Homo sapiens: one gene and its partners. The protein of the gene in region 1 interacts with the protein of each later gene in a biochemical or structural test. Each region holds a gene or a part of one and is shown in the gene's direction. Other genes may lie near its edges.

Region 1 (3,136 bases):
TGACAAGATTTCCTTAATTATCATATAATAGTCTGTATTGTTTCTATCTCAAAAATACAGTTTTCTTGGTTGTTGAAATCTAGATCCAACATTGCATTTGGTTGATGTGTCTCCTTTACTCTGTAAAATTTACCCCTGCGTTTTAGTTCTTTTCGGCTTTTATTTGTCCTGTGGAATTTCCTCCACTCAGGATTTGACTGAGAGTATCCCCAGAGTGTCCAGTTAGACCTAGAAGCTGGATTTGATCCTGGTTCATTTATTTTCCCCCAAGAATACTCCATAGGTGATGCTATACACTTTCTCTTACATCATTTCAGGAGGAACATGATGTCTGATTGTTCCACTTTCAGTGATTTTAATATTGATCAATGAGTTCTGGTGGTACCAACTACTACAAAGTTTCTCATCAATCTTTCACCTGATGGTTTTAGCAGCTATTGATAATTGTTGCCTGGATCCATTATTTCATTTCAGGGGTTGTAAAATAGTGATTTTCTGGTTCTATCAAACCTCTTGCATTTATCATCTATGATTCTTCTTTAAGGAACTTTCTCTAAATCTGAATGGGAAAGATGCGATAAATATTTATCAAATTTTAGAGTGAGTTAGTGCCCTAGCAACCTCCACAGTTGACAAATGAGTATTTCTTTAAAGCAAGGTATGGCCCAACCAATACTTTGAAACTAGCATGTTTAGAATAGAGCAGGAGGAAACTATATTTGAAAGGTCAGAAGTGGAAAGACTAAGAGGGCCTGAACAATAAGAGGACAGAACCAAGAGGAGTTGGCAACTAATTGGATGTGGGGATTAAGGAAAGGTAAGCATCAAAGATTACCTCCAAGTTTGTTAGAAGGTTAGTAGCAGGATTCTGATGCCATTCAAGTAAATACAAGTCTCAGTCAGATGAACCCCAAGAGCCACATGTATTTGAGGGGTACTTTGTCTCACACTTTTACCTGTTACATGGTTTTCAGTAATTTAGAATTTAAGCCAGTAGTGGGGCGACTGTACATCTATCGACATGGTGAGGTAGAGCATGTTTGGGAGGAAAGACGTTGAATCCCATTTGGTGACAGTGAGCTTGAGGTGCTGCCAGAACACTGCACTGAAGATAGGAGGAGACTGTAGGAAATACAAGATAGGAAAGGTCTCCACTGAAATGTTAACTCTTTCTCTCTAAACGGCCATCCAGGCCTCAATGTCTGCAGTTTCTGATCTGTGATTATGACTTATCCAAATCTTACATTTCTTAAAAATAGTCATAGATGAAGGGAATCACAGTTGATAGTTATATGGTGACATTATTGGCTTAAATTCTAAATAACTAGAAACTGTATAATAGGCAAAACTGTGAGGCAAATAAAATGCTTCTCAAATCTGTGTGGCTCTTATGGGGTTAATTTGATTTGGACCTGTATTAATTTCTTATGGCTGCTATAACTAACAAATTACCACAAACTTGGTGGTTTAAAACAACACACATTTATTCTCTTTCTGTTCTGGAGGCCAGAAGTCTAAAATGAGATTCACTGGGCTGCAGTTCACTGGGCAAGGCCATGCTCCTCTGGAGGCTTCCATGATGCATCCCATATTCAGTGTTTCCCGAGTAAGCCCCACCCATGCAGGTCTGCAGTTTTACCTCAACAGGCTTTTGCACTCAGTGGCTCTCTCCTGTGGTTTCTATCTGAAATTCTCTTCATTTTTTTTTTAATAACTGCTTTATTGAGATATAATTCACATGCCATACAATTCACCTATACAGTATACAATTCAGTAGTGTTTACTATATTCAGAGTTGTGCAACTATCATTTTTCTCACCCCCAAAAGAAACCCTATGCCCGTTAGTATTCACTCTGTTTTCTCACAACTCTAGGTAACCACTAATCTACTCTCCATCTCTATAGATTTGCCCATGCTAGACATTTCATATAAATGGAATCATACATGTGGTCTTTTTCACTGAGTATATTTTCAAGGTGCATCCCAGCTGTGGCATGAATCAGCATCTCATTCCTTTTTATTGCCAAATAATATTCTATCATATGGATATGTCGCATTTTATGTATCCATTCATCAGCTGATGGACATTTGGGTTGTTTGTACTTTTTGGCTACCATGAATAATGCTACTATGAACTTTTGTGTACAAATCTTATGTGGACTTGTTTTCATTTCTCTTGGATGTATATTCCTAGGAGAATGGCTGGATTATACAGTAACTCTTTCCTCATAACTTTGCATATCAAAATTATATCCATCTTTCAGAACCCAAATTCAGTGTTATTTCCAAAGTGTTCCAACATCTCCCACTCAAAATGAATCTTCTCCCTAGTACTCCCATTGTTTAGTACCTAATTGTTCTTACCAGTTTGTCTTAGAGCTCAGTCATTCCTACACAGCACTTTTCTTCATTATACTGCTAATTTCATTACACTGTAAGAGTGGGGACAAGCTGTTCTTCTTGTATACCAGAAAGTAGTGAGTGCACTGCTGTGAAGAAAGCAGGAACTCAAAAGTTAAGAATTTTGAATGAGCCTATAAAATGTGTCTAATAAATAATAATGTTCATTTTCAAATCTCAACAATTAAATGTTTAACAAATAACACTTGAAATAAATGTTTATTAGAAAAACCAATTTGGTATGTTAAAGTATTTATTTTGAATTTCAGAAACTACAGAATTCTGGATTTTTAATTAAGAAAATTAGACATTTTAGAATTTCTAGATAGGACTTTGAAAATAAACATGGCACAATATACACAAAAGTAAATGACAACATGACATTAAATTTTACATTGTTTTGCAGTTTCAAATTTCGTATTAATGTTCTACAACAAATTTTAAAATTCTTTTCAGTGTTTTGCTTCCCTTGGTGTTCATTATTGCCTATTTATAAAGTCATAAAAGGCCTAAAAATAACTTGTTACTCATATTGAAAGTCTGATTTTTTTTTTATTCCCTTAAGATGGAGGTCTCTCACTATGTTGCCCAGGCTGGTTTCAAACTTCTGGGCTCAAAGGATTCCCCATCTCAGCCCCCTGAGTAGCTGGGACCAAAGGCATGCACCACTGCACCCGGCTGAAAGCCTGTATTTTTATCTTTCGATGGACAACAGAGGGATATCTCCCACTCTCT
Region 2 (3,500 bases), on another chromosome or scaffold:
CATCCCTTGGGGAGTGGAGGCCATCAGGGCAGACCTGCTATGGACCTGAAAGATTCCGCCCCAGGTCAGCCCTCCACTCCCCACCTCCCCACAATTTGAGAATGAGAGGGAACAGGAGTCAGGAGCCGGAGTGTTGGCCCCAGTAGACTCCAATCAATGTTGGACATGATTCTGATTGGCTAAACACTGTGTAGATGTTTTTAAACAAAGTCCATTTAAGGTTACTGCACTAATCAAGGAGTACTGGATTATAAAAACATCTATAAATCTGAGTTTGAGTATTTTTTAAAACAAAATTGTTAAACCAGATGTGTTGCTTTTTTTTCTTGTCATCTCTAAGTATAGTCCTCAGTTAAATATACTAATAAGCAAAATGCACCAAAACTTTTGGCTAATAGTTGTGCTTTAACTTAATATTTGTTATTTCATAGAGACTGCTATGAAAAGCTTTTTATTCTGAATCACTGTACAGTTATTCTTTGATCCTGTCAGTCAAATCTCATTTTTAGGGTCTTGACTAGGTTTTATGAAAGCCCAGTAAGGCAGTTTGCCCATAAGGCAGTCATCAGTCCTGTTTCCTGATGCCACATGACAGAAGGGGTCCATGTAGAATTTCGTTTCTTCCTGGAAGTCCCAAGGAAACCTGCAAGTATTATGATAACTAGGAAGGAAACCTGCAAGTATTATGATGAACTGGGAAGGAAACCTGTAAGTATTATGATGAACTAGATAGAACTACATGTCTCTCATGATGAAATGCATCTCCCTCTGTTTAACAGGATATGGGGAGTTTTAGGACAGGGAAGAAAGTGCTCAATTAGAAAGAAGCAAAGACAATTACTCTAGAGTGGAGCTGGCCTTCCAGTCCTCAAGACTGGGGAGCAGCAGTTGGGGCTCATTAGTGAAGAGTTTCATTTTTTTCATTTTCTGAACAGTGCTCTCCATGTTACTGAAGTCTTCTTTGTGGGTTGCTGGACCAGGAATATTAACCATTGCCTCTTGGCCCTCCTTGTTCTCAGGATTCCAGCTTTCCCTCCTGGCCAGAAATGTTCAGCCTGGACTCATTCAGAAAAGGTAAGACTGCAACTGTGCTTGTGACCTCATGCCCTTCCTTATTGGGATGGGCAGCTCTGAGGGCTGTGAAAGTCTCTCCCCAGTATGTAGTTCTTGCACATTTCTTTGGGTGGTTTTCCAAAGGCCTTTCCTATAGCCTTCCTTTTGCATGGTGCTTAGAATCTGTGCCAACCCTTGCCATGGCCTTTGCCATGCTTCCTCCCAGTGCCCCCTTCTGCGTACTCCCTGCTTATTAAAATCCTTTTTTTTTTTTCTGAGATGGAGCCTCACTTCTGTCGCCCAGGCTGGAGTGCAGTGGCACGATCTCGGCTCAGTGCAATCTCCTCCTCCTGGGTTGAAGCAATTCTCCTGCCTCAGCCTCCGTAGTAGCTGGGATTACAGGAACCAGCTGCCAAGCTCGGCTAATTCTTTTTTTTTTTTTTAGTTGAGACGGGGTTTCACCATGTTGGCCAGGCTGGTCTCAAACTGTTGACCTCAAGTGATCCACCCACCTCGGCCTCCCAAAGTGCTGGGATTACAGGTGTGAGCCACCGTGGCTGGCCTCTAAAATCCTATTTTTCTAGGCTAGTATTTTATACCATCTCCTTCATGAACCTTTCCTAATTCTGTTGACCAAATGCAATCTTTCTCCAATCTTCCTCGGTACCATACCTGTTCGTTCTCATGGTTAGTCTATTCTGAATTAATCATTTTGTCACTAGATTGGAAGCTCCCTGTAGCCAGGGCCTGTTGTGTGCTTTTACGATGCATAGCACCTGGCCAGCATTTCGCACATAGTAGGCCTCAGTAAACACTGGTGGAAGTTGGATTGAGTCTGTATTAGGCTGTTCTTGCATTGGTATAAAAAAATACCTGAGACTGGGTAATTTATAAGAAAAGAGGTTTAATTGGCTCACATTTCTGCAGGGTGTATAGGAAACATGGTGCTGGCATCTGTTTGGCTTCTGGGGAGGACTCAGGGAGCTTTCACTCAGGGGCAGAAGGTGAAGCGGGAGCAGGCGTGTCACGTGGCAAAAATCAGGATCCAGAGAGAGAGAGTTGGGGAGGTGCCACACAATTTAAACAAGATTGGCTGGGCATGATGGCTCACGCCTGTAATCCCAGCACTTTGGGAGGCCAAGGTGGACGGATTGCCTGAGCTCAGGAGTTCCAGACCAGCCTGGACAACACAGTGAAACCCCATCTCTACTAAAATACAAAAAATTATCCAGGCGTGGCAGTCTGCGCCTATAGTCCCAGCTACTTGGGAGGCTGAGGCAGGAGAATAGCTTTAACCCGGGAGGCAGAGGTTGCAGTGAGCCGAGATTACACCACTGCACTCCAGCCTGGGCAACAGAGCAAGACTCAGTCTCAAAAAAAAAAAAAAAAAAGGCCATGTGTGGTGGTGGGCACCTGTAATCCCAGCTACTTGGGAGGCTGAGGCAGGAGAATCGCTTGAACCTGGGAGACGGGTTGCAGTGAGCTGAGATCGTGCCATTGCACTCCAGCCTGGGCAACAAGAGTGAGATGCCATCTCAAAAATAAATAAATAAATAAATAAAATAAACAACAGGATCTCATGAGAGGCTGGGCGCAGTGGCTCACACCTGTAATCCCAGCACTTTGGGAGGCCAAAGTGGGCGGATCACTTGAGGTCAGGCATTTGAGACCAGCCTGGCCAACATGATGAGACCCGTCTCTACTAAAAATACAGAAAATTAGCTAGGCGTGGTGGTGTGCACCTGTATTCCCAGCTACTTGGGAGGCTAAGGCACGAGAATTGCTTGAACCCAGGAGGTGCAGGTTGTAGTGAGTCAAGATTGTGCCACTGCACTCCAGCCTGGGCGACAGGGCAAGAATCCATCTCAAAAAAAAAAAAAAGATTTCATGAGAATTTACTCACTATCACAAGGATAGTAGCAAGCCATGAGGGATCCATTCTGTGACCCTTCAACAGCAGAGATTACATTTCCTTTTTTTTTTTTTTTGAGACGGAGTCTCACTCTGTTGTTGCCCAGGCTGGAGTGCAGTGGCACGAGCTTGGCTCACTGCAACCTCTGCCTCCCGGGTTCAAGCAATTCTCCTGCCTCAGCCTCCCGAGTAGCTGGGACTACAGGCGTGTGCCACCACACCCGGGTAATTCTTGTATTTTTAGTAGAGATGGGATTTCGCCATATTGGCCAGGCTGGTCTGTAACTCCTGAGCTCAAGTGATTTCGCCCATCTCGGCCTCCCAAAGTGTTGGGATTACAGGCGTGAGCCACCAGCAGGAGATTACATTTCAACATGAGATTTGGGTAGGGACAAATATCCACACTATATCAAAGTCATTCTTTCGTTAGTGATCATAGAAACTCTGGCAAGTCTTGCCGGGCGCGGTGGCTCACGCCTGTAATCCCAGCACTTTGGGAGGCCGAGGCAGGCGGATCACGAGGTCAGGAGATTGAG
Region 3 (3,500 bases), on another chromosome or scaffold:
TTCTCTCTTTCTCTCTCTCTCTTTCTCTTGCTTTCTTGCTTTCTTTTTTTTTTTCCCAGACAGAGTCTCACTCTGTTACACAGCCTGGAGTGCAGTGGTGCAATCATAGCTCTCTTCAGCCTTGACCTCCTAGGCTTAAGCGATCCTTCTGCCCTCAGCCTCCCAAGTATCTGGGACTACAGACATGTGCCACTACACCCAGCTAAATTTTGGGGTTTTTGACAGACCGCAAGAATGAGCTGGCCCACTTGGCAACTCATGGCCCAGAGAATCCAAAACTGGAGATGCTGGAAAAGATCCTGCAAAGGCAGTTCAGTAGCTCTAACAGCCCTCGGGGTATCATCTTCACCCGCACCCGCCAAAGCGCACACTCCCTCCTGCTCTGGCTCCAGCAGCAGCAGGGCCTGCAGACTGTGGACATCCGGGCCCAGCTACTGATTGGGGCTGGGAACAGCAGCCAGAGCACCCACATGACCCAGGTGTGGGCTTCGGGGAAAGATGCTGGCGCTGGGAGGGATTCCATAGGAGAGAAGTGCGGGGAACAGGGTCTTCAGCACAGAGAGGTGGGGGCAGGGAGACCCTGGGGAAAGAGAAAGTTGACTATCCCCAGGCAGAGGGGCAAGGAGCTAGGGGAGAGGGGCGGACACTGACCTCCCCAGTGCTGGAGCCTCTCCCAGTCTGGAGGTCCTTGGGGGCAGAAGGTTGGGCATGGGGGTCCGTAGGGAAAGAGGTGGGTGATGCAGTTCCTCAGGGCACAGGATCAGGTCTGGGGTCCCTTGCAGAAGACTATGGCTTGAGAGTTTTTCCTAGACTAGAGGGGCAGGGACCCTTAGGAGTCCCTAGGGAAGATAGGGGTTGGACAGTTACCTGGGAAGATGGGCAAGATCCTGGGGGTACCTGGGGATAAAGATGGGATTCAAGTACTCTAGGGAGATGGACCAAGATTGGGAGTGAGGGCTGAACCAGAAGAGGCTACTCTGGCAGGTGGAGTCAGTCTGAGCCTCCTCATGTACCAGCCTCTTTCTCCTCCCTGCCCTCCGCCTGCAGAGGGACCAGCAAGAAGTGATCCAGAAGTTCCAAGATGGAACCCTGAACCTTCTGGTGGCCACGAGTGTGGCGGAGGAGGGGCTGGACATCCCACATTGCAATGTGGTGGTGCGTTATGGGCTCTTGACCAATGAAATCTCCATGGTCCAGGTACTCACATCCTCCTCCACTCAGCCGCCCTTATAGGATCCTGTGTGGGGCCCCAGCCCAACTCAGGACACCCCTTGTCTCTCTTCCCAGGCCAGGGGCCGTGCCCGGGCCGATCAGAGTGTATACGCGTTTGTAGCAACTGAAGGTAGCCGGGAGCTGAAGCGGGAGCTGATCAACGAGGCGCTGGAGACGCTGATGGAGCAGGCAGTGGCTGCTGTGCAGAAAATGGACCAGGCCGAGTACCAGGCCAAGGTCTGCAGGCAGCCTGCATGCCCTGTGGGAGGGATGGGGAGGAGGGAGCCCCTCCCTGGCAGGTTTCTGACTGCACACATACGTCCCCCTGTCCCCTCTACATCTCGGGGCTAACTTTGGCCACCTAGGGAAGGTTTAAATAAGGGCCGGGGTGGGGCTGCCAGGGAAGGCAGTACCTGGACTCCAGAAGGCCTTGGGAACAGGCCTTGTCCAAGGCTCTTTATTTATCTTTGCCATGAGATACTTTATGTATCTGGAAGAGCTGCATTACAGCCTTTCTGGAACCAGGCAGAGGGGACAAGATAAGTCCACGTGCAGAAGATAAGCCCAGAACTAGGACTTATATCATCAGTTCCCCTGAGGCAGGGCCACCACCATCCTGCCTTGTCCAGGGTGCTCCCTGTTGTCCCAGCATAATTGTTAATGATGCCCCATGACAGATTCACAGAAGCAGCTTTGCCTAAAGTCCTTCAAGATTGAGCAGGAAAGCTTACCCCTCCCACTGTTGCCCCCGACTACTCATACTGTTTTTCTCCATAGCTGTTTTTTTTTTTTTCCCCGAGACGGAGTCTCACTCTGTCACCCAGGCTGGAGTGCATGGCACAATCTCCACCTCCTGGGCTCAAGCAATTCTCTTGCCTCAGCCTCCCGAGTAGCTGGGATTACAGGCATGCGCCACCATGCCCGGCTAATTTTGTATTTTCAGTAGAGATGGGGTTTCACCATGTTGCCCAGGCTGGTCTCGAACTCCTGACCTCGTGATCCACCCGCCTTGGCCTCCCAAAATGCTGGGATTACAGGCATGAGTTACTGCATCATCACAGCAATAGAGCTTCTTTTAAGCTCCAGGGAGGGTTAAGGAAAGTCTCTTCCAGGTACAAATGATCTTAGTTCTTTGGGAACCTTTTGTCCCCCAAGGAACGTTCTCTTAGGCCCCAGCCATGCCTGGTGTCTCCTCCCACCCCAGATCCGGGATCTGCAGCAGGCAGCCTTGACCAAGCGGGCGGCCCAGGCAGCCCAGCGGGAGAACCAGCGGCAGCAGTTCCCAGTGGAGCACGTGCAGCTACTCTGCATCAACTGCATGGTGGCTGTGGGCCATGGCAGCGACCTGCGGAAGGTGGAGGGCACCCACCATGTCAATGTGAACCCCAACTTCTCGTGAGACCTGTGGAAGGGGCTACTGGGATGGGGGCCTGGGAATCCTTCCCATCCAGACAGTGCTTTGAAGCTTTGGGAAGCTAAAGAGCATTGTAGCAAGTACTTTGCATTTTCACAATAATCTGGTTAGACAGGTTTTATCCCTGTCTCCATTTTACAGGCAAGGAAATAGAGGCTCAGAGAGGCTATGTGACTTGCCCAAGTTCCCACAGCCACTATCTGGTTGAGCAAGAACTGGAATTCAGGATACTAAGTGTCAAAAGACCACACATTGACCCTCTGGTCCTACCTATTCCGAAGATATCAAGAGAGCTTGGCCATCCCTGGGCCATCCTCCATCCACTATCTCCTAGAGAGTAACCTTCCCCCATCCTCCATCCATTCATTATGTTACCCTCTGTGTTCCGGGCCACTGTGCCAAGGATCTTCACACAGATTTTCTCAATTGAGGAGGTTGCATTTCAGCTAGGTCTCAATGGGTCTGGTTTGAATGTGAGCGAATGAGAAGGTAACCATGGAGGGCCAGGTGCAGTGGCTCACGCCTGTAATTCCAACACTTTGGGAGGCGGAGGTGGGTAGATCACTTGAGGTTAGGAGTTCAAGACCAGTCTGGCCAACATATTGAAACCCCTTCTCTACTAAAAAAAAATACAAAAATTAGCTGGGCGTGGTGGCCCATGCTTGTAATCCCAGCTACTTGGGTGGCTGAGGCATGAGAATCACTTGAACCCGGGAGGCAAGCCAAGATCGCACCACTGCACTCCAGCCTGGGCAATAGAGTGAGACTCTGCCTTTAAAAAAAAAAAAGCGACACCAGTTGACCTGAGTGGAAGGGACTGTGAATAATGAGATTTAGAAAAAGACAGACTAGCCCGTGGAAGATTTGAAAGGTC
Region 4 (3,500 bases), on another chromosome or scaffold:
GCATAATGACGTGTATCTACCAATATCACACAGAGTAGAGTAGTATCACTGACCTAAAAATCCTTTTGTTTTGCACCATTTTTTAACCTCTTAGAACCTGAGCCAGCAGAAGAGTACACTGAGCAAAGTGAAGTTGAATCAACAGAGGTATGATTTTAATTTAATGCTGCCTTTACTTTGCTGCCTTTCAAACAAATGTCTCAAACATTTACTTTGCTTTGCAGTATGTAAATAGACAGTTCATGGCAGAAACACAGTTCACCAGTGGTGAAAAGGAGCAGGTAGATGAGTGGACAGTTGAAACGGTTGAGGTAAGAGTTCTCTGTATTGCAAAGTTGTTGTCTTTGTCTTCAGTTAGTAATTTTTATCTCTACTGAGAACAAATTAAGATTGTTTTTTGCATTATTAGTACATTTATTATAATAACAGACTCATTACACCAGACTGTTACTTCCAAAAAATGAATGTTTATCCCTGTGGATGTTTAATAGGATCCCTGCTTTGCTGAACCAATCTAAAAAAATTATTTTATACAAAGTTATCTGTGGATTAATCTGTTACCATGATTTGTCTCTTACTGAAATTAGGTTGCTCTGTAAAAATCTGGGCTCCCACACTGATAGCTGTGTTTTGGGGTATCATCTTGCACTCCTCCTTTACCCTAATGCTGTTTGGTCACCAGGCTGTAGACTTCCTCTAGCGTTTTCTAATGCTGTCTCTCAACTGATAATGATGATTTTTTTCGGGTCCTCATGTCTAGTTCAGTGACTCTCTTCATATTACTCCTCTCTGACTGCCTCCAGACCATCCTATTCATTGTCACAACTTAATTATTGGAAAAGTTAGCTTTAAGTTACTTGTACTTGAGGCTCTCAGTGATGCCTTGTTACCTGTAAGATACAGTCTAAAAACCTTACCAACTGGTCCTGGCCTTCCTTTTGATCTTCTTTTAGATGTCTTTCTTTACACCCCCAAGGTGCAGGAAAATAGCTGTAAGCTGAGGGTAATATGCTTTTCCTTTTAATATGTTATTCTTATATCAAGACCATTCTCTTGGCCGGGCACGGTGGTTCATGCCTGTAACCCCAGCACTTTGTGGGGCTGAGGCAGGTGGATCACATGAGGCCAAGAGTTAGAGACCAGCCTGGCCAGCATGGTGAAACCCAGTCTCTACTTCAAAAACAAACAAAAACCTGGGCATGGTGGTGCATGCCTGTAATCCCAGCTACTTGGGAGGCTGAGGTACGAGAATCACTTGAACTGGGGAGACAGAAGTTGTAGTGAGCTGAGATCGTGCCACTGCATTCCAACCTGGTTGACAGAGACTCTGTCTCAAGAAGAAAAAAACCCATTTTCCAAAGAGATTGCAAAGTTTTTTTTTTTTGAGAGTCTCACTCTTGCCCAGTAGAGATGGGGTTTCACCATTTTGGCCAGGCTCGTCTTGAATTCCTGACCTCAAGTGATCTGCCCGTTTCAGCCTCCCAAAGTGCTGGGATTACAGTCATGAGCCACTGCGCCTGGCCCATAGATGTTATAATTGTGCCAGCAACTTCATCCCTCTGTTGGAGCACCAAAATGTCCCATTGGTAAGGTAAAGAGAGTAGGCACTTACCCCAGAAAGGTACTTGGGATGAAAATACTGCTCAGGAAGTCCCAACAAAATAGTGTATATTTGCTGAATTAAAGAATGCAGTTCAGAAATGTTATAGGAGGATTAGAAGAGAAATCAATCAAAAAGATTAGTAGAGGTGATTTACAGTTGTTCCTTGTTATACCAGGGGCATTGGTTTTAGGACACTCCCACACACCGAAGTCTGCTCATACTCAAGTTGTGCCATGTATCTGCGGGACCCACATATATACAGGTGTTTCACATCTCAAGAGTACTGGAGGATAAGTGAACCTGTGCAGTTCAAGCCCATGTTGTTCAAATGTCAGCTGTATATATGAGGTGTACAAACCCATTGAGCCTTGACTAAGTCGATGGGATGTATGTTTTTAGGGGAGCCAGGTAATAGGGATGTATAGCATGGATGTAGAAGTAGAAATGAACTATTAACATATTTGTTTTATTGAACATAGAATGCAAGGTAAATATTGACATAGTAGGAAGAAGTTGGGAAGCAGTATACAGTGCTTTGTAGTTAAGTATTTTTTGGATTTTATTTGAGAAGAGCATACTACTTGCCACTGTGCCAGTGTGGTTTGTTCTTTGTATCTAGTAGGTGGGCCTTTCTAAAGGCTATCCACATGAGATTCCACGAATTTTTGGAGCATCCTGAAGTTGGTATTACACAGATTGTTGGTTTCGCTTTGGTAGTGATTTTTATCTGTGTTGTTTATAAAGGGAATAGCTGATTTTGCCTAGTTTCAACCAGTATGACTTGTCCAGTTTTAAATCCAGACAGAATAATATAAATTTGATGTAATAAAAGATAGGATTTCCTTGCAGAGCAGGGAATTACTAAGAACAATAAGCAGAGGAAATTATTAGAGCTGGGAAAAGGCTAATAGAGTGAGCTTTGGCTTCTGTAGCAGTTTAGATGAGTTGGTAAAGCTTGATCCTATGGTGTTGGCTGAGAAAATGGAATGGGAAAAACCCAAATCTTGATGATAATAATAGCTAACATTTCTTGAGTGCTATGTACCAGGTTGTGAGATAGATATATATTTGACATAGATATATAAATCCAGTTACTATAGAAGGCATAACAGTTTTAAGAAAAATACATTATTTTAGGATGTAAACACAGGTAATCTTTCTTTGAAAGCAGCTTATAAAATAAATCTGAGGCTGGGCATGGTGGCTCATGCCTGTATTCCCAGCACTTGGGATGCCAAGGCGGGTGGGTCACAAGGTCAGGAGTTCAAGACCAGCCTGGCCAATATGGTGTGAAACCCTGTCTCCGCTAAAAATACAAAAATTAGCCGGGTGTGTTGATGGGTGCCTGTAATCCCAGCTACCTGAGAGGCTGAGGCAGGAGAATTGCTTGAACCCGGGAGATGGATGTTGCAGTGAGTCGAGATCCCGCCACTGCTGTCCAGCCTGGGTTACAGAGCTAGATTCCGTCTCGAAAGAAAAAAAAATAAATAAATAAGTAAATCAACATGAAATGCTACATAGTGGTCTTATGGAACTGAAACACTGTAGAAGTGATGACATTTTTCAGAATGTTAAATTTGGCATAAATGTAATTCATTTGGGTAACTGCATTAAAGCCCGTTCTGTTTATAGTATAGATGGTTTATGTAGTGTGGGGGACCCATCATGGTGGTAGTGAGTGGAGCTTTTTTGCTCTCCTATTCCTTCTAATCCTTTTTTTTCTACCTTAGGTGGTAAATTCACTCCAGCAGCAACCTCAGGCTGCATCCCCTTCAGTACCAGAGCCCCACTCTTTGACTCCAGTGGCTCAGGCAGATCCCCTTGTGAGAAGACAGCGAGTACAAGACCTTATGGCACAAATGCAGGGTCCCTATAATTTCATACAGGTATGTTCATT
Region 5 (2,581 bases), on another chromosome or scaffold:
TCCCTCTTGCATTAGGTTAATGGCACGAGAGAAAGGCACCTGTCCCCTCCTTCCAGGTGGAGAAAATCCGTTACTGCATCACCAAACTTGACAGGGAGCTTCGAGGACTGGATGACATCAAGGACTTGAAGGTGACATGCTGTTCCACAGTCACTCCCTGCCTTCCGTGTGCCCCCACTTGCCCACTTCCAGAGACTTCCTCAAGCTTCCACTCCAGCCCACGTCCCCGTCCCACCCCTGCTGCCTTGAATAGAGCTCGAGCTCTCCCTGAGCCTCTCACTCCTGGAGATTCCAACTTAAGGGTCTGGGATGGGATCAGGAAGCCTGCATGTTTAACAAACACCTCCTGTCATTCTTAGACTGAGGCAGGTTTGAGGCCTCTGCCCTAAGGATAAAGTCCAAATTCCGTGGCCTGTCATGTGATGCTGCCACCCCCACCCCCAGTAGCCTCTCTCTTAAGGTTCTGGTCTCAACACTGGCTGCAGATAACAATCACCTGGAGAGCTTTTAATACCCCGCCCCCATGCCAGGGCCCCACCCACCAGCTCATACAGCTATCGGGGCAGAGCCAGGGCACTGGTAGTTTTTACAGCTTCTCAGGTGATTCTAATATGCAGCCAGGGTTGAAAACACTGCTCTAAGACTTACAGGCCTCTCTCTTGGAAATTCTGATCGGGGGTCCGGGTTAGGGCCCAGGGTTGTATATTCTTAACAGATACTTAGTGATTGTTTTCAGGAAAGTTTGAAAGTCACTGCTCTGAGTTCCCGTGTTCTTTGCAATGCTGTTTTCTTTCCTTAGAACACTTTGCAGGCCCCAGCCCTCAGCAGGATTCAACCTTCATGTTTCAGCTTCCACAGCCTACCTCCCATCCCCTTTCCCTGGGCCGTGTCGCAGCACTGGTTCACTCACTGATCTACAATTGCCCAGTGACCTCTCTGTACCCTCCTTGGAAGGCAAGCTCCCTGGGGTAGGGCACCCCTTTGACACCCCTGGCTGGTCTCAGGCCCTGCCTCTTTCCCCACTAGGTGGGTTCAGTAGAAGAATTCCAAGGCCAAGAACGAAGCGTCATCCTCATCTCCACCGTGCGAAGCAGCCAGAGCTTTGTGCAGCTGGATCTGGACTTTAATCTGGGTTTCCTTAAGAACCCCAAGGTTTGAGGGCTGGTCGGGGTGGCAGGAATTCTTCCATTCTCGGGGCTCTTCCCTCCCATGACCACACCACTTCTTCCTTCCAGAGGTTCAATGTAGCTGTGACCCGGGCCAAGGCCCTGCTCATCATCGTGGGGAACCCCCTTCTCCTGGGCCATGACCCTGACTGGAAAGTGTGAGCATTCCCACCCCATTCTCCCTCTTAGTGGCCACAGCCCCTGCCTAGGGCAGGTGGATCTTTTTTAAGCGCTTGCTTATCGCTCAGTTAATCCTCAGATGTGTCCATTTTCACAGCATCACTATTGTATTTATAAGTTAAATGACATCCAGAGGTTGAGCAAGTACAGCTCAGATGGGACAGGACCGTGGCTTAGCCTCCAGTCTCTGCTGGCACTCCTCTGTACCCCACAGATTCCTGGAGTTCTGTAAAGAAAACGGAGGGTATACCGGGTGTCCCTTCCCTGCCAAACTGGACCTGCAACAGGGACAGAATTTACTGCAAGGTCTGAGCAAGCTCAGCCCCTCTACCTCAGGTATGGCTGGGCCAGGGTGGGGACAGTGCCAGAGGAGGTGGTAAGGAAGACACAGTGTACTTTCTCTCTTTCCAGGGCCCCACAGCCATGACTACCTCCCCCAGGAGCGGGAGGGTGAAGGGGGCCTGTCTCTGCAAGTGGAGCCAGAGTGGAGGAATGAGCTCTGAAGACACAGCACCCAGCCTTCTCGCACCAGCCAAGCCTTAACTGCCTGCCTGACCCTGAACCAGAACCCAGCTGAACTGCCCCTCCAAGGGACAGGAAGGCTGGGGGAGGGAGTTTACAACCCAAGCCATTCCACCCCCTCCCCTGCTGGGGAGAATGACACATCAAGCTGCTAACAATTGGGGGAAGGGGAAGGAAGAAAACTCTGAAAACAAAATCTTGTTCTATGCAAAAGCCTTGATAATGTCTCCTCTGCCTGGCCCCAGCTTCCTGAGCCCCTAAGCTGACCCTGTAGGGAAGGGTGGGACTTTCAGCCCTGCTGAGGGTCACATCCCCTCCCAGCTGGAGAGGAACCCAGCCCCCACACTCGGGGGAGGAAACCCAGTGGGAGGTGGCAGGGAAGCCACCCACAGGTTTCTAAGTTTAGCCCCCTGCTACAGACCACTCCCTTCACCCGCCTCCTTGGCCCAGAGCCAGGCATGACCTCATCCTTTGCTCTAAGACTCCACCCTGCTGGCCACTGGCCTGCTTTGTAGACAGGGGGCCAGGCTGGCAAGCAACTTGGACATGAAAAGAGATGGGACACCAAGCACCCAGAGGGAAAGACCGAAAGCTGCCACACACGTTGGAGCCTGTAGCCTTTATTCATGCCCCCCTGACCAAATGCAGTGAGAGACAAGGCCCCTGCCGAAAACAACTCCAGGGGCCTGGGACTCTGGGTCCCCTACTGCAGA
Region 6 (3,500 bases), on another chromosome or scaffold:
GAAGCCGTGGGCACACATGGTGCAAGGGAGACCCTTTAAAATGACCTGAAAACCCACCTGAGCAGGCTTTGAGGACAGGAACCCATTTTTAGCGGCAGAAACCTGCATTTGGGGATCTCCTGAGTGAGGGCTGCACCTGTACCGCTGGGGGCCAGGCCCCAGGCTGGACACCCTTGACCCCTCCGTTTAGAGATGAGGAAACTGAGGCTGAGCACAGTCCAGGACTTGATAAGGACATGGGTGGGGGCGGGGCCGCGGGAATGCCGGGGGCAGCTGCTGTCGGGCTGCTTTGTGCCCCCACCCTGACTCACTGGCCTCTCTGGTCCCCGGCCCCGCAGGTGTACATCGGTGAGCTCCCGCAGGACTTCCTCCGCATCACGCCCACACAGCAGCAGCGGCAGGTCCAGCTGGACGCCCAGGCGGCCCAGCAGCTGCAGTACGGAGGCGCAGTGGGCACCGTGGGCCGACTGAACATCACGGTGGTACAGGTGGGCCTTGGGGCACCCTCCTGCCTGCCTGGGGCTGGTGCGCTCGGTGGGGGTGGGATTTCGGATTTCGGCGTTTATACTGCATTTCCTAAGCGGGCAAACAGAACTTCTGATTCCCGCTTTTCCTGAAACCTGTGTGATGTTGAAAACGATCTGTGTGAAAGATATTGGCATTGACCCCGGGTTCTACCAAACATAACTCAAGTGATGAGTAGTGGGTGTAGGTGGGCGTCTGCTCTGTGTAGGGCCTGGCTCTTCCACCAGGCTTGAGTACGCCCAAGGACACCTCCCGGACCCCCGCCGGCAGCTGGAGGAGGCGCGGCCGGCACCCCCGCCACCTGGTGTGTGCTGCGTGAGTGGCTTCCTGTTGGCCTCAGTGCCGGTGCCTGCACCCTCCCTCCCCACAGAGCAGCCCTCGGTCAGCCTCGGGGCCGGCCCGTGGTTGCTTAGTGGTCTTTCAAGTGAAAGCCAAAATCGGCAGATTGAACGCCGATTTTGATCACACGAAAACCGTCTGTAAGACTGCAGGAAAAGGAAACACACTGTGAGCCACGCAGGCTTTCGTAGAAATGCAGGGAAAGGAGACACACTGTGAGCCACGCAGGCTTTCGTAGAAATGCAGGGAAAGGAGACACACCGTGAGCCACGCGGGCTTTCGTAGAAATGCAGGGAAAGGAGACACACCGTGAGCCACGCGGGCTTTCGTAGAAATGCAGGGAAAGGAGACACACCGTGAGCCACCCGGGCTTTCGTAGAAATGCAGGGAAAGGAGACACACCGTGAGCCACGCGGGCTTTCGTAGAAATGCAGGAAAAGGAGACACACCGTGAGCCACGCGGGCTTTCGTAGAAATGCAGGAAAAGGAGACACACCGTGAGCCACGCGGGCTTTCGTAGAAATGCAGGGAAAGGAGACACACCGTGAGCCACGCGGGCTTTCGTAGAAATGCAGGGAAAGGAGACACACCGTGAGCCACGCGGGCTTTCGTAGAAATGCAGGGAAAGGAGACACACCGTGAGCCACGCGGGCTTTCGTAGAAATGCAGGGAAAGGAGACACACCGTGAGCCACGCGGGCTTTCGTAGAAATGCAGGGAAAGGAGACACACCGTGAGCCACGCGGGCTTTCGTAGAAATGCAGGGAAAGGAGACACACTGTGAGCCACGCGGGCTTTCGTAGAAATGCAGGGAAAGGAGACACACTGTGAGCCACGCGGCTTTCGTAGAAATGCAGGGAAAGGAGACACACTGAGCCATGCGGGCTTTCGTAGAAATGCAGGGAAAGGAGACACACCGTGAGCCACGCGGGCTTTCGTAGAAATGCAGGGAAAGGAGACACACTGTGAGCCACGCGGGCTTTCGTAGAAATGCAGGGAAAGGAGACACACTGTGAGCCACGCGGGCTTTCGTAGAAATGCAGGGAAAGGAGACACACTGTGAGCCACACGGCTTTCATAGAAATGCAGGGAAAGGAGACACACTGAGCCATGCGGGCTTTTGTAGAAATGCAGGGAAAGGAGACACACTGTGAGCCACGCGGGCTTTCGTAGAAATGCAGGGAAAGGAGACACACTGTGAGCCACGCGGCTTTCATAGAAATGCACAAATACAGCAGGCAGAAGAATCGCCGTGGACCTCACAAATAAGACTTGCTTTCAGGGGCTTCATGGTGTGGTGAGCACAGCTACACCGTCACCCCTTCCTCGCGGCGTGTCTCAGACCCTTGCTTGTGCAGCTGTTACTGTGCTGGTGTGGCCGATCCCTCTGCCCACCCAGTGAACTCCCGTAAGCCCATGCATTCCTGTGCCAGCTGCCACCAGGCCAGCCAGTGCCATCACCCGTCCTCAGCCGCCACCTCCTGGCAGGGCCTGGTGACCGCAGGGCACTCCACCTCACACAGTTCAAGCTCCAGAGCTGGCTGGGCCTTGGAGGTGGCCCTGGCGTTGCCCACGCCTCTGGCCCCCCTTGGTCCTCTCCCGCACCCTGGAGCCCACCACAGGCAGCCTGTTTCCTCCACGTGAGCTCACCCAGCCTTCTGTGGCGCAGCTCCAGTGGTGGGAAACATTCCTGCCTCCTCACTGGGCCAGGTAGCTCAGCCCCTGTTTCCTGCTTCTCTTGGCTTCTGGGCGGCCACACAGGTGGTTCCCTGCTTGCGTCCCCTCGCTGCTTCCCCTTGTTGTCTCCTGGGGCCCCAGTGGGATGCCAAGGGGTCTGGTCCTCAGCCCTCCTCCCCTCTCTGCCCACACATCCCGGTGACTTCTGCATCCCTGTGGGTCTAAACACCCATGTGCTGGCCCCAGCCTGAGCCGACCACTCAGCTCCACCCCAGATCCCTAGGTACGGACCATGGCCACATGGCCTCCCCAGGTGTTCCGTGGGCACTCCGGACTCCGTGTGCCCAAGGTGGAGCTCTCGGGCCACCCTCCCGGCTTCTCCCCCGTGTCCGCAGGTGGCTGCCCCACACTCTGGAAGCTGAGGCCCAAAGCCCTCGTGCTGCTGGTGCTCCAGGTTCATGTCCACCTCTTGCCCTTCAGGCCTGACCCTCAGCACAGGCGCCACCTTCAGCCCGTCCAGGCCTGGAGCCCCCCGCACCCACCCACTGCCCCCGCTCAGCCCCTGCAGCGTGGCCAGAGTAGGTCCGTTCCCGCGTGGGCCTTTCTCGTGGGCACTGTCCTGCCGAGCCTGCTCCAGCTGGGCCCATGTTTTCCTCACCCTAGTCACTCCTGACCTTCCTCTTCCCTGGCCGTTCTCCTCCCGCTTCCTGCAGCTCTTCCTCCAGATCCTGCAGCCCGCATACCCGGTCCTCCTAGCTGGTCACTCCCTGCAGTGGTAACGCCGTCTGCTGCGCTGTGTGTCTGCCGCGCATCTCTTGCCCATTGTGGGGAAAGCAGCGGTGCCCGTGTGTCCCCACGGTGTCTGCTGTCTGACGTGCGTCTCTTGCCCGTTGTGGGGGAGGCAGCGGTGCCCGTGTGTCCCCACGGTGTCCACAGTGTCTCCTGCACCAGAACAGCATG
Region 7 (3,500 bases), on another chromosome or scaffold:
CTGGGTTTATGATCCTTTACACTATGTGACCTCTGACACATCGCTAGCAGAGGTTTCAATCAAAATCTGTTGCTTTGGGCCAGGCTTGGTGGCTCACACCTGTAATCACAGCCCTTTGGGAGGTGGGGTGGGAGGACTGCTTGAGGCCAGGAGTTTGAGACCAGCCTGGTCAACAAAGAGACATCCTGTCTGTCAAAAAAAAAAAAAAAAAAAAGTTAGCTGGGCATGGTGGTTCCCACCTGTAGTCCAAGCTACTCAGGAGACTGAGGCGGGAGGATGATTTGAGCCCAGGAGTTTGAGGCTGCAGTGAGCTATGATCACACCACTGCACACCGGTTGAGTGACAGAGTAAGACCTTATCTTGAAGAAAAAACCAAACCAAACAAAAACAAAGGTTGCTTTGGTCATATTTGGTGTATCATTGTGTCACAGTCTGCCTTTTTGTTCTTTGTTTTATTACTCCTACGTTAAATATCAATAGATCATTTTGAATTGGACATTTGATTCAGTAATAATTTTTTAGGCTCTTACTACAAGTATGAGGGTAATGAAGATCATAAAATCAGTGGAGAAAACAGTTCTTTGTATGGAGAAATTCACAATTCTACAAGGCATGAACAAAACATGAAATAGAAAATCAAGTTGAAAGCAATAAGCTGTTGTTAACTGTGGGTCAGGGATGGCAGTTACTTCTGTGTTGGGCAGCTTGGGGAAAGGAAGATGAAGGACAAATGGAGATTTTAGGCCCTCTGGTGGCAGAGAAATGAACCTTGAAAGCAGGCTGAAATGATGGCATCCTGGTTGTTTTCGCTTTCAGACGTCAAGCCTTCTAATGTACTCATCAATGCTCTCGGTCAAGTGAAGATGTGCGATTTTGGAATCAGTGGCTACTTGGTGGACTCTGTTGCTAAAACAATTGATGCAGGTTGCAAACCATACATGGCCGTAAGTACATTAGCTAGGGTGGCATCTGGTAATGTCACTGCCGACAAATCATGCTGGGAAACAAGAAATGGATGGCCACAGAGGGAAAATGGAAATGTACCTAAGACTCCAGAAGTAGTCTGCCTCTTAGTATTTCTTCAAAATTTTATGTCTGAAATCTTTACTCACTTGCTTCGTATATTGTCTTAGTTTGTTCAGGCTGCTATGGCAAAGTAATGTAAGCCAGGCAGCATATAAACAACAGAAATTTATCTCTCACAGTTTTGGAGGCTAGGAAATCCAAGATGAAGGCACCAGAAGATTTGGTGTCCAATGAGGGCTCACGTTTCTCAGGATCATACATAGCACCTTCCTGCTTAGTCCTCGCACGGTGAAAGGGGCGAGGGATCTCTCTAGGGCTTTTTTAATAAGGGCCCCAATCCTATTCATTAGTATTCCACTTTCATGATTCAATCACCCCCCAAAGGCCCTGCCTTCTGATGCCACCACATGTGCGATTAGGTTTTAACCTGTGGATTTTGGTGGGGCACAGACATAGTTATATATATATTACTTTAAAAAAATCAAGTGAAAGAGATACGTTATTTGAAAAAATATATACACAATACATATAGCCTGCACAGTTTTCCACACTGTATTGCAGGGGAGTATTACCTTGTTTGTTGAGGACAAAATAGTAAATAGAGCTTAAATTACCCAAACAAGGCAGTTAGATTAGTTATGAGAGGACCTCACAGCTGTGAAGATTCACCGTCATTAGCAGAGACCTTGCAATCCCCTTTAACTGGAGGAACGGCCACTAGATTCTACCTGGAAATGGACTTGTGCTTTGAATTGAAAAGCTTCCTGTCTGTGTTTAGCTAAAAATTGCTCAGGTCTATTAGCATGGGACAGTAGCCCAGTGACACTTGTTTTATTGAGTTCTGGACTGTTCATGTTTTAAACAAGGATAATTCTAGATGGGCAAAGTAGCTTTATAATGTATACCCTGTTTCTTCTTAAGGCAAATTTTAAATTTGTTATGAAAGGAACTTGATCCATTACTGTGTCCAAGAAAAGACAAACACAGAAGAAGGGAAACCCCACGGAGGCATTGATATTTGTTGTAGTTAACCGGGTCTTCTTGGCCTTGGTGGCATGTTAACAGCTTATAACAACTCACTTGGCAGCTGGTGCTACCCCCATCCCCAGAGACTATTGAGCTAAGAACGTTATCTCAATTGTCTTCCCAGTTTCTCAGTTGTCTGTCTTCTTTCCAGCCTGAAAGAATAAACCCAGAGCTCAACCAGAAGGGATACAGTGTGAAGTCTGACATTTGGAGTCTGGGCATCACGATGGTAGTGTATGCCAATCATCATGAACTATGAGGTTGTGGGTAATGAAACTAGAATGAGGTGGACGTTGGGTTCAAGAAACAAATGCCCTAAATGCTGGTTTGGGGCGCCCTCTCCTGCTGAGCTGGTAGGAGATTTTGAGTAATAATTGTTTGTATTGTGGTACAATAAAAACACTGATATGGGATTGGGGAAACCAATCTTTCTCTTGATTCCACCTCTGACGAGCTGTATGCCTTTTTGAGTAATTGTTACAGTCACATGGACTATCTTCCTATCCTCCTCTGTAAAACGAGAGGATCTGACCAGATTCCTTATAGTTTAAAATTAAATTATTCGAGCCAAGGCAAGAAGCTTAAGCTGTGCAAAGAATGCTAATGTGCGTGAACCCTGATAGGGCCGTGTTATCCAGGACATAGACTATGCTTCCCAGGATATTTTTATTGGAGAAGTAGAAGTCAAAGTCTGATCAGGTCAGTGTATTAGTTCGTTTTCACACTGCTGATAAAAGCATCCCCAAGACTGAGTAATTTAAAAGAAAAAGAGGTTTAATGGACTCACAGTTCCATGCAGCTGGGGAGGCCTCACGATCATGGCGGAAGGTGAAAGGCACATCTTATATGGCGGCAGACAAGAGAGAATGAGATGAGACAGCCAAGTGAAAAGGGAGATGCTTCATAAAACCATCAGATCTCGTGAGACTTTTTCACTACCATGAGAACCATAGAACAGTATGGGGGAACCACCCCCATGATTCAATTGTTTCCCACTGGGTCCCTCCCACAACATGTAGGAATTATGGGAGCTACAATTCAAGATGAGATTTGGGTGGGGACACAGCCCAACCGTATCAGTCAGGTATATCCTCAATACATGATAACCAATAGGATGATTTCCTTAGACACAGCCCTAAAGTTATATGATTTATTCATAACTTATTCATAACTTTGGTGATTGTAAATTTCATAACTTTGGTGGTCATACATTTTCAGTGGATCACCAAGGTCTGGAATTATCCACTGTGGTCCTGGCTCCTCCCCAGGCACAGCAGCTGAATAAATCCCATGAGTTATTTCTCCTGCCTGCCCAGAAAGCACATGATCCTGTAATGCAAAGTGGCCTTTTCTCAAGTCCAAAAAAAGATCTGTCATTTGGTTCTAGGTTGCTTTTTCTCCCTGTCATTTCACCAAGGGACCTGAAGGTGGCAGTAGATGCTCGGCT

The links.
Region 2: the proteins of EIF2AK2 (region 1) and DHX30 form a complex in vitro, tested with the Homo sapiens proteins (one study listed by BioGRID).
Region 3: the proteins of EIF2AK2 (region 1) and DHX58 form a complex in vitro, tested with the Homo sapiens proteins (one study listed by BioGRID).
Region 4: the proteins of EIF2AK2 (region 1) and CAPRIN1 form a complex in vitro, tested with the Homo sapiens proteins (one study listed by BioGRID).
Region 5: the proteins of EIF2AK2 (region 1) and MOV10 form a complex in vitro, tested with the Homo sapiens proteins (one study listed by BioGRID).
Region 6: the proteins of EIF2AK2 (region 1) and TOLLIP form a complex in vitro, tested with the Homo sapiens proteins (one study listed by BioGRID).
Region 7: of the proteins of EIF2AK2 (region 1) and MAP2K6, one has a biochemical effect on the other in vitro, tested with the Homo sapiens proteins (one study listed by BioGRID).

What each region holds. Positions count from the first base shown.
Region 1 is NC_000002.12:37,098,710-37,101,845, reverse strand, and holds the end of EIF2AK2 (interferon-induced, double-stranded RNA-activated protein kinase), read left to right. Parts: 3' UTR 1-2,636; downstream 2,637-3,136.
Region 2 is NC_000003.12:47,809,638-47,813,137, forward strand, and holds part of DHX30 (ATP-dependent RNA helicase DHX30), read left to right. Parts: intron 1-1,019; 5' UTR 1,020-1,046; coding exon 1,047-1,074; intron 1,075-3,500.
Region 3 is NC_000017.11:42,102,715-42,106,214, reverse strand, and holds part of DHX58 (ATP-dependent RNA helicase DHX58), read left to right. Parts: intron 1-225; coding exon 226-479; intron 480-1,047; coding exon 1,048-1,197; intron 1,198-1,287; coding exon 1,288-1,449; intron 1,450-2,416; coding exon 2,417-2,607; intron 2,608-3,500.
Region 4 is NC_000011.10:34,082,731-34,086,230, forward strand, and holds part of CAPRIN1 (caprin-1), read left to right. Parts: intron 1-94; coding exon 95-147; intron 148-224; coding exon 225-311; intron 312-3,333; coding exon 3,334-3,489; intron 3,490-3,500. UniProt on the Homo sapiens protein: mRNA-binding protein that acts as a regulator of mRNAs transport, translation and/or stability, and which is involved in neurogenesis, synaptic plasticity in neurons and cell proliferation and migration in multiple cell types.
Region 5 is NC_000001.11:112,698,659-112,701,239, forward strand, and holds the end of MOV10 (helicase MOV-10), read left to right. Parts: coding exon of another isoform or gene 1-15; exon of another isoform or gene 16-56; coding exon 57-131; exon of another isoform or gene 132-155; intron 156-799; coding exon of another isoform or gene 800-913; exon of another isoform or gene 914-1,026; coding exon 1,027-1,152; intron 1,153-1,235; coding exon 1,236-1,324; intron 1,325-1,560; coding exon 1,561-1,682; intron 1,683-1,757; coding exon 1,758-1,849; 3' UTR 1,850-2,081; downstream 2,082-2,581.
Region 6 is NC_000011.10:1,292,633-1,296,132, reverse strand, and holds part of TOLLIP (toll-interacting protein), read left to right. Parts: intron 1-338; coding exon 339-488; intron 489-3,500. UniProt on the Homo sapiens protein: Component of the signaling pathway of IL-1 and Toll-like receptors. Inhibits cell activation by microbial products. Recruits IRAK1 to the IL-1 receptor complex. Inhibits IRAK1 phosphorylation and kinase activity.
Region 7 is NC_000017.11:69,522,697-69,526,196, forward strand, and holds part of MAP2K6 (dual specificity mitogen-activated protein kinase kinase 6), read left to right. Parts: intron 1-817; coding exon 818-945; intron 946-2,204; coding exon 2,205-2,282; intron 2,283-3,500. UniProt on the Homo sapiens protein: Dual specificity protein kinase which acts as an essential component of the MAP kinase signal transduction pathway.